2 separate regions of the Homo sapiens genome follow, and region 1 is linked to region 2. The links come from fine-mapping of genetic effects on gene expression. A gene starts in region 2. The other region holds a variant in brackets. All regions are shown on one strand. Distances are between the middles of the regions.

Region 1 (4,248 bases), 27 kb before region 2:
GGTGGGTGCCTGTAGTCCCAGCTACTCAGGAGGCTGAGGGTGGAGAATGGCATGAACCCAGGAGGCAGAGCTTGCAGTGAGCCAAGATCACGCCACTGCACTTCAGCCTGGGGGACAGAGCAAGACTCTGTCTCAAAAAAAAAAAAAATTATGCCCACACTAGAAAACAGTTTTTTAAAGGAGATACAACACTATGAACCAGCAACTCCACTCCTAAGACTGTACCCAAGAAAAATGAAACCTGTGTCCAAAGACTTGCACACAAATAGAGTAGCATTTTTCACAGTAACCCCAAATGGAAACAGTCCAAGCCTCCAGCAACTAAGGAGGCGCCATGAACAAATGTGGCCACAGAGCGGAGCATCGTTCAGCTGCAAAGCACGAAGCATTACTCCGTGTCACGGCATGGATGAGCCTCCAAAACACCGCATCCAGGGAAGAAACCAGATGCAGAGTGTACAGCTCATGTGGGAAAGGCGGAGGGCAGTGCTGGCTGCACAACACGCATTTCCTGTCACCGACTTGCACACTTAACAGTGAGAGAATTTTATGCTCTATAAATTATAAATCAATAAAACTGTTTTAGAAACAGAATCATAGAGTAAAGGGAACACATTACTTCATACTTAGTTATCTCAGCCTGTCTAGAAAACAATTCCAACCCTGACAGACAGCAAATGAAATTGAGGAGAGAAAATGATAATGCATAATAGTATAAAAGCAACAATCATATATAAAAAGAACCGAAAAAAATACATGCAAGAGCACAACATAGAAAATCTACAAAAACACAAGAGACGCAAGTCCTAGGTAAAGGAGGAAATACTGCATGTCCCCAGGTGGGAAGGCTCAGTACAGGAAGACGTCACAGACTGCAGGGCTACTCAGAATTTGGTTTTGTTTTAGAGACTCAACAGCTGCTTCCAAGGTTTATATGGAAACGCAAAGGACTGGGAAGAGCCAAGATGCTCTTAAACAATGAGGCCCTACTCTACCAGATGTGAGAATTTCCTGAAAATAACAGGGAGACCCCATCTCTACAAAAAAATAAAAATTAGCTGAGCATGGTGGCACACAGCACACCTGTGAGTCCCAGCTACTTGGGAGGCTGAGGCGGGAGGATCACCTGAGCCTGGGAGGTTGAGGCTGCAGTGAGCCAAGATGGCGCCACTGCACTCCAGCCTGGGAAACAGAGCAAGACAGTGTCTCCAAAAAGAAAGAAAGAAAGAAAAAAAACTCCAGCTTACCAAAAAGCCACCACTGTGCAGAGAGCATGGCAGTGGACAGACAAAGGGGGCCAAGAATCCAGAAAGGGGCCCAGGCTTAGATGGGCTTGGTTTATGATGGGCAGTGACACCCCTTCCACCAAACGGCACAGAGGCTGATGGTAACCACCACACGGGAACAGTTAACCCTGAGCCTGGCCTCTCCCTCTTAAGAGGCCGATTAGAAGGGAAAACAGGACAGTGTTGGCACAAAATAGTACTTGAAACCGTAAAAATAAAATAGAGGACATTAAGAATTTTGCCGTTTTCCCATCTGCATTAGTCCATTCTCACATTGCTATAAAGGACTGCCTGAGAGTGGGTAATTTATAAAGAAAAGAGGTTTAATTGACTTGCAGTTCCACAAGGCTGGCGAGGCCTCAGGAAACTTACAATCATGGTGGGTAAGGACGCAAACATGTGCTTCTTCACATGGCAGCAGGAGAGAGAAATTAGTGCCCAGTGAAGGGGGAAGCCCCTTATAAAACCATCAGATCTCATGAGAACTCACTTTCAAGAGAACAGGATGGCAGGAACCACGCCCATGATTCGGCCATTCCACTGGGTCCCGTGCACAACATGTGGGGATTATGGGAACTACAATTCAAGATAAGATTTGGGTGGGGACACAGCCCAACCATATCATTCCACCTCTGGCCCCTCCTAAACCGCATGTCCTCACAATTCAAAACACAATCATGCCCTTCCAGCCATCCCCCAAAGTCTTAACTCATTCCAGCATTAACCCAAAAGTCCAAGTCCAGAGTCTCATCTGAGACAAAGCAAGTCCCTTCTGCCTATAAGCCTGTAAAATCAAAAGCCAAGTGAGTTACTTCCTAGATACAGTGGGGGTACAGGCATTGGGTAAATACACCTATTCCAAATGGGAGAAATTGGCCAAAACAAAGGGGCTACAGGCCCCAGGCAAATCTGAAATCCAACAGGGCAGTCAAATCTTAAAGCTCCAAAATGATCTCCTTTGACTCCATGTCTCACATCCAGATCACACTGATGCAAGAGCTGGGTTCCCAAGGCCTTGGGCAGCTCCACCCCTGTGGCTATGCAGGGTACAGCCCCCCTCCCAGCTGCTTTCACAGGCTTGTGACAAGTGTCTGTGGCTTTTCCAGGTCCATGGTGCAAGCTGTTGTCGGTGGATCTACCATTCTGGGGTCTGGAGGATGGTGGCCCTTTTCTCACAGCTCCACTAGGCAGTGCCCTAGTAGGGACCCTGTGGAGGGATCCAACCCCACATTTCCCTTC[C/T]GTATTGCCCTAGCAGAGGTTCTCTGTGAAGACTCTACCCCTGCAGCACACTTCTGCCTGGACATCCAGTAGTTCCTATACATCCTCTGAAATCCAGGCAGAGGTTCCTAAACCTGAATTTTTAATTTATTAATTTATTTATGTTTGAGATGGCGTCTTGCTCTGTCACCCAGGCTGGAGTGCAGTGGCATGATCTTGGCTCACTGCAACTTCTGCCTCCCAGGTTCAAGTGATTCTCCCACCTCAGCCTCCCAGGTAGCTGGGACTAGAGGCGTGCACCACCATGCTTGGCTAATTTTTGTATTTTTAGTAGGGACACGGTTTCACCATGTTGGCCAGGCTGGTCTCAAACTCCTGACCTCAGGTGATCCACTTGCCTCGGCCTCCCAAAGTGTTGGGATTACAGGCGTGAGCCATTGCACCTAGCTCCCAAACCTCAATTCTTGACTTCTGGGCATCTGCAGGCCCAATACCACATGGAAACTGCCAAGGCTTGGGGCTTGCACCCTCTGAAGCAACAGTCTGAGCTGTACCTTGGCTCCTTTAGCCATGGCTGGGAGGCAGGGCACCCGAGACTACACAAAGCAGCAAGGCCCTGGGTCTGGTCCACTAAACCATTTTTTCCTCCTAGGCCTCGGGGCCTGTGATGGGAGGGGCTGCCCTGAAGACGTCTGACATGCCCTGGAGACATTTTCCCCACTGTCTTGGTGATTAACATTTGGCTCCTTGTTATGCAAATTTCTGCAGCCAGCTTAAATTTCTCCTCAGAAAATGGGCTTTTCTGTTTTATGGCATCATCACGCTGCAAATTTTTCAGTCTTTTATGGTTGGCTTCCCTTTTAAACATAAGTTCCAATTCCAAACCATATCTTTGTGAATACATAAAACTGAATGCTTTTAACAGCATCCAGGTCACATTTTGAACAGTTTGCTGCTTAGAAATTTCTTTCACTGGCTGGGCGCAGTGGCTCATGCCTGTAATCCCAGCACTTTGGGAGGCCAAGGCGGGCAGATCACAAGGTCAGGAGATCAAGACGCTCCTGGCCAACATGGTGAGACCCTGTCTCTACTAAAAATACAAAAATTAGCTGGGTGTGACAGCGTGCTTCTGTAGTTCCAGCTACTCAGGAAGCTGAGACAGGAGAATCGCTTGAACATGGGAGGCAGTGGTTGCAGTGAGCCGAGATTGCGCCACTGCACTCCAGCCTGGGTGACAAAGTGAGACTCCATCTCAGAAAAAAAAAAAAAAATTTATTTCACTAGATGCCCTAAATCATCTCTCACAAGTTCAAAGTTCCACAAATCTCTAGAGCAGGGGCAACATGCCACCAGTCTCTGCTAAAACATAGCAAGAGTCACCTTTATTCCAGTTTCCTACAAGTTCCTCTTCTCCGAGACCACCTCAGCCTGGACTTTGTTGGCCATATCACTATCAGGATTTTGGTCAAAGGCATTCAGCAAGTCTAGGAAGCGCCAGACTTTCCCACATCTTCCTGTCCTTTTCTGAGCCCTCCAAACGGTTCCAACCTCTGCCTGCTACCCAGTTCCAAAGTCACTTCCACATTTTTGGGTATCTTTACAGCAGTGTCCCACTGTAATAATAATTATTACAGTAATAATTTACTGTATTAGTCTTTTCTCATGCTGCTGATAAAGACATACCTGAGACTGGGTAATTTATAAAGGAAAGAGGTTTAATGGACTCACAGTTCCACATGGCTGG
Region 2 (4,248 bases):
AGGCAGGGGCCAGGCTGTCTGCTGTCAGAGGACGAAGCCTGCAGCCTACTGCCCGGACCCCGGCCTCCTGACACTTCTCAGGATCCTCTAGGAGCAGCTGTAGCCTCCGCAGGTGCCCAGGAGCTTTCTCCATCTCACCCTAGAAACCTCTACGGCTTTGGATCAGAGAGGAGTCCTGGCCTGCCCCATGCCCCCTCCAGCCCCGTCTACAGGGGCAGGGACCGGCGGAGCAGGCGCCTCCCGGCTGGGAACCCACCCCTCCTGATTAGAGAGGGACTACTGCCACCACCCGAGCACCTGGGTCAGTGTGGCGACGCCCTGCAGAAACTCCTCGGGCTCCAGCAGCAGCAGCAATTCCTGTTCACCTGCAGCCCACACTTCAGGAGGCAGCTGTGGGGACATGGGGACGCGCTGCTGCCTGTCTCAACCCCGGGTGCCCCAGGGGCCCTGCCTGGGCAGTCCAGCAGCAAAGCGGTTCGTGGCCCCAGCCAAGCCCAGGCCCTGACAGGCCTGCTCTACAGAAGCCCAGTGTTCCCTTTCCTGCCAAGGCCAAGCTCAGGCCAGGTCTCTGTGGCTGGCAGGAATCCAGACCACAGCCTGAATCGAGACGGAACCTTCTCCAGCCAGCTCGGCTCTATACCAGCAGAACGGCTTGGGCACCTCCACTTCCCGTTCTCCATCCTTGCTTTACCCATCCGCGAGACGCGCACGGCCCAGGGCAGCTGCCTCAGGGACAGCTCCAGGGCTGAAATCATGGAAGCAAAACAGCCAACTCGCGGCTGGCCCTCGGGAACCCGCGACCACTCACGCTGCGGGGGCAGGGGTCGGGACTCGCTCGGGTCCACCGCAGGCTGCGGGCCGGGCGCTGGGGCTCGATGCGGCACTCGCAGCCCAGGGCCTCCAGGGCCTCCATCAGGACGTCGGCACCGGCGTCTTCCAGGATGGCTGGGACCGGGGGAGAGGAGCGCGGTCACTGCTTCCTTCCACCCTCGCGAGCGCCCTACCTGGGCGGGTGGCCGGACCGGGGAGTCTCCATTCGGCACAAACCCCCGACTGGGAGGCGGGCCCGGCCCCAGGCCCCTCGGCACGCGCGCCCCGCCCAGTCGGACAGAGGGCGCCGCCTGGCGGAGAAAGGCCTTTCCTACCCCGAGTATCGCCCGTGCCCTCCGCCGCACCTGTGTCCACGCACACCGCGAGGCGCTTCAGGACCTGCTCCGGCCGCAGCAGCCGCAACGCCTCGGCAGCCGCCCTGCGCTCACCCGCTGGGTCCCGGGCTCTCGCGGCGGCCTCCGAGCCGGCGGAGTCCTCAGCGTCGGAGTCTGAGATCTCCCAGGTTGGAGGTCGCCGCTGACCGCTCCCGCCCCGTCCCCGGCCCCGGCCCTGGCAAGAGACCCCCGCCCTCCCGGGTCCAACCCGCGCCATGGCCGGACCGACCTCTTCCTCGCTTCCGGCCGCGACCGAACACTTTAGCCTGGGACACCGGCCTCTTCCGGTGACTTCCGGCCGGACCGCTGAGGACGCGGACCCGCCATGGCGCGGAAGAAGGTGCGTCCGCGGCTGATCGCGGAGCTGGCCCGCCGCGTGCGCGCCCTGCGGGAGCAACTGAACAGGCCGCGCGACTCCCAGCTCTACGCGGTGGACTACGAGACCTTGACGCGGCCGTTCTCTGGACGCCGGCTGCCGGTCCGGGCCTGGGCCGACGTGCGCCGCGAGAGCCGCCTCTTGCAGCTGCTCGGCCGCCTCCCGCTCTTCGGCCTGGGCCGCCTGGTCACGCGCAAGTCCTGGCTGTGGCAGCACGACGAGCCGTGCTACTGGCGCCTCACGCGGGTGCGGCCCGACTACACGGCGCAGGTGCGTGCACCCCGTCCGCACCCCGCCCCTGCAGCCGCCTGGTCTCCCCGCCTCCCCTCCTCCCTGCAGGTTTGCGTGGCTGAGGCTCCCACCTCCTGACCTCGGGGGCCGAGAGCTTTGCGAGCTGACCCCGCTTCCTTCTGGCTTTGCAGAACTTGGACCACGGGAAGGCCTGGGGCATCCTGACCTTCAAAGGTAAGGCTCGGGAGAGCGGGTGCCCGGCAGTTCGATGCCGACCGCCGACGGCACAGCAAGTGTGTGCAGACGCCTCTTTTTCTTCATCAGGGAAGACTGAGAGCGAGGCGCGGGAGATCGAACACGTCATGTACCATGACTGGCGGCTGGTGCCCAAGCACGAGGAGGAGGCCTTCACCGCGTTCACGCCGGCGCCGGAAGACAGCCTGGCCTCCGTGCCGTACCCGCCTCTCCTCCGGGCCATGATTATCGCAGAACGACAGAAAAATGGAGACACAAGCACCGAGGAGCCCATGCTGAATGTGCAGAGGATACGCATGGAACCCTGGGATTACCCTGCAAAACAGGAAGACAAAGGAAGGGCCAAGGGCACCCCCGTCTAGAATGCCAGAACCAGCGGGTGGCCTTAGGGGCTGTGAGGCAGTGGGGACCTTATTGATGAAAGAAACCGTCTTTGCGTTACACCCGAGTCTGCCTCTCGGAGCAGGGAGCTCACCTTCCGCGACGTGTTCTGAGGGTCTGCATCTTAGGGGGGAGGGCTGGGGCAAATCGCCACCTGTGCCTTTCCTCTGGCCCTGCTGCCCCCACACCCAACTCCGAGGGCCCACGCTGGGGAAAGCGGGAAGCGCTCGCTCCCTTTCCCCCATTAGTGCTCTCTCTGCCTGGATCCCGGCAGAAGCTATGAAAGGGAATAAAGAGAAAAGAAGTACCCAGGGTCGTGGTGTCTTTGCGCTCTGTCTTTAGGACCGGGGAGAGAAGGGCTGACGCTGTGGTCGTGGCCCTGGCCGGGGGGGCGCGGGGGGGGCGGGGTTCGGGCGGTGCGGAGCAGGGCGCCGCGTGGGTGGAACCACCTGGGCGGGTTGTGGGGGATACAGTTAGTGTCCGAGCTGCTGGAGGAGACTTGGCCTCCGCAGCTGCCCTCCGGCCCCCCACGGCTGCCGGGTTCCGGGGTGCAAGTGAAGCAGCCTCCCCGCGGAGGCCGCAGCGCCCCGACCAGGCCTCTTTAAGCGCAGGCCCCGCCCCGGGCGCCACCGCCCCGCCCCGCGGATCCCGCTCCCGCACCGCCATCATGATCTGCCTGGTGCTGACCATCTTCGCTAACCTCTTCCCCGCGGGTGAGCCGCGCGGCGCGGGCCGGGGGCGGGTGGCCGGTGCTGGGCCGGCCTGACGGCCCGTCCCCGCCTGCCCCGCAGCCTGCACCGGCGCACACGAACGCACCTTCCTGGCCGTGAAGCCGGACGGCGTGCAGCGGCGGCTGGTGGGCGAGATTGTGCGGCGCTTCGAGAGGAAGGGCTTCAAGTTGGTGGCGCTGAAGCTGGTGCAGGTGGGGGCGCGGTGAGCGAGCGGGGGCGCGGTGTGGGGGGAAGGGGAGCGGGGACCTGGGGACGCCTAGGTGCCGGGTGCGGGCGCAGGCGGCCTGACCCTTCCGCAGGCCTCCGAGGAGCTGCTGCGTGAGCACTACGCCGAGCTGCGTGAACGCCCGTTCTACGGCCGCCTTGTCAAGTATATGGCCTCCGGGCCGGTGGTGGCCATGGTGAGTATCCGGGAAGCGGGCGGGCGGCTCCGGGACCCCCACCCCCGCGTGATACCGCGCCCGTTCCTCCGCACAGGTATGGCAGGGGCTGGACGTGGTGCGCACCTCGCGGGCGCTCATCGGAGCCACGAACCCGGCCGACGCCCCGCCCGGCACCATCCGCGGGGATTTCTGCATCGAGGTTGGCAAGTAAGGCCCGCCCCGGGGACGGTCCCAGCCCCGTCCGGCCTCCCCCTGTTCAGCCTGCGTGGTACCCGTGCCGGAGGTCTCTTTCCCACGCTCACACGCGCCTCTTCCGCGCAGGAACCTGATTCACGGCAGCGACTCGGTGGAGAGTGCCCGCCGCGAGATCGCTCTCTGGTTCCGCGCAGACGAGCTCCTCTGCTGGGAGGACAGCGCTGGGCACTGGCTGTATGAGTAGCCCGGCAGATGCGCGTCACAGAGGCTCTCACACTCCAGCCTCCTCCAGGGCCCAGGTGGGCGGGCTTCTGGCCCCACCCCACAGCGCTTGGAGCATCCCTTTGGACGGGCTGCTGAACATCCACCTGTCTGGACGTTGCATGGAGGGTGGCGCAGGCCTCTCCAATCCCTGGCGTACAGGGTTTCCTGCCCGAGGAGCTGCTCCAGGAGCCTGCGCGGCTCGCCTGGAAACGTGCCAGGACACTGTC

The links. PIP is the estimated chance that this variant, and not a neighbour inherited with it, causes the effect. A credible set is the group of variants that fine-mapping cannot tell apart.
Region 1: its variant is the best candidate, but not a certain one, in a credible set for the expression of EME2 in whole blood (INTERVAL, PIP 0.56).

What each region holds. Positions count from the first base shown.
Region 1 is chr16:1,797,061-1,801,308 of GRCh38, reverse strand. No RefSeq gene overlaps it. Among named protein-coding and RNA genes, the nearest start is that of IGFALS, 5.5 kb to the right of the region's middle. The variant C/T (reference allele first, on the strand shown) is at 2,526.
Region 2 is chr16:1,770,402-1,774,649 of GRCh38, reverse strand. It overlaps EME2 (essential meiotic structure-specific endonuclease subunit 2), which reads right to left and starts at 1,840. Exons shown (of 8, transcript NM_001257370.2): 1 at 1,176-1,840; 2 at 809-945; 3 at 298-390. The coding sequence starts at 1,422. NME3 (NME/NM23 nucleoside diphosphate kinase 3) reads left to right here and starts at 3,107. Exons shown (of 5, transcript NM_002513.3): 1 at 3,107-3,161; 2 at 3,240-3,370; 3 at 3,479-3,580; 4 at 3,657-3,769; 5 at 3,884-4,248. The coding sequence starts at 3,116. The coding sequence ends at 4,001. It overlaps MRPS34 (mitochondrial ribosomal protein S34), which reads left to right and starts at 1,516. Exons shown (of 3, transcript NM_023936.2): 1 at 1,516-1,851; 2 at 2,004-2,046; 3 at 2,137-2,755. The coding sequence starts at 1,531. The coding sequence ends at 2,429. RefSeq lists enhancers at 1-594, 1,452-1,591, 2,382-2,471 and silencers at 772-831, 842-951, 962-1,271, 1,302-1,401, 1,762-1,901 and 2 more.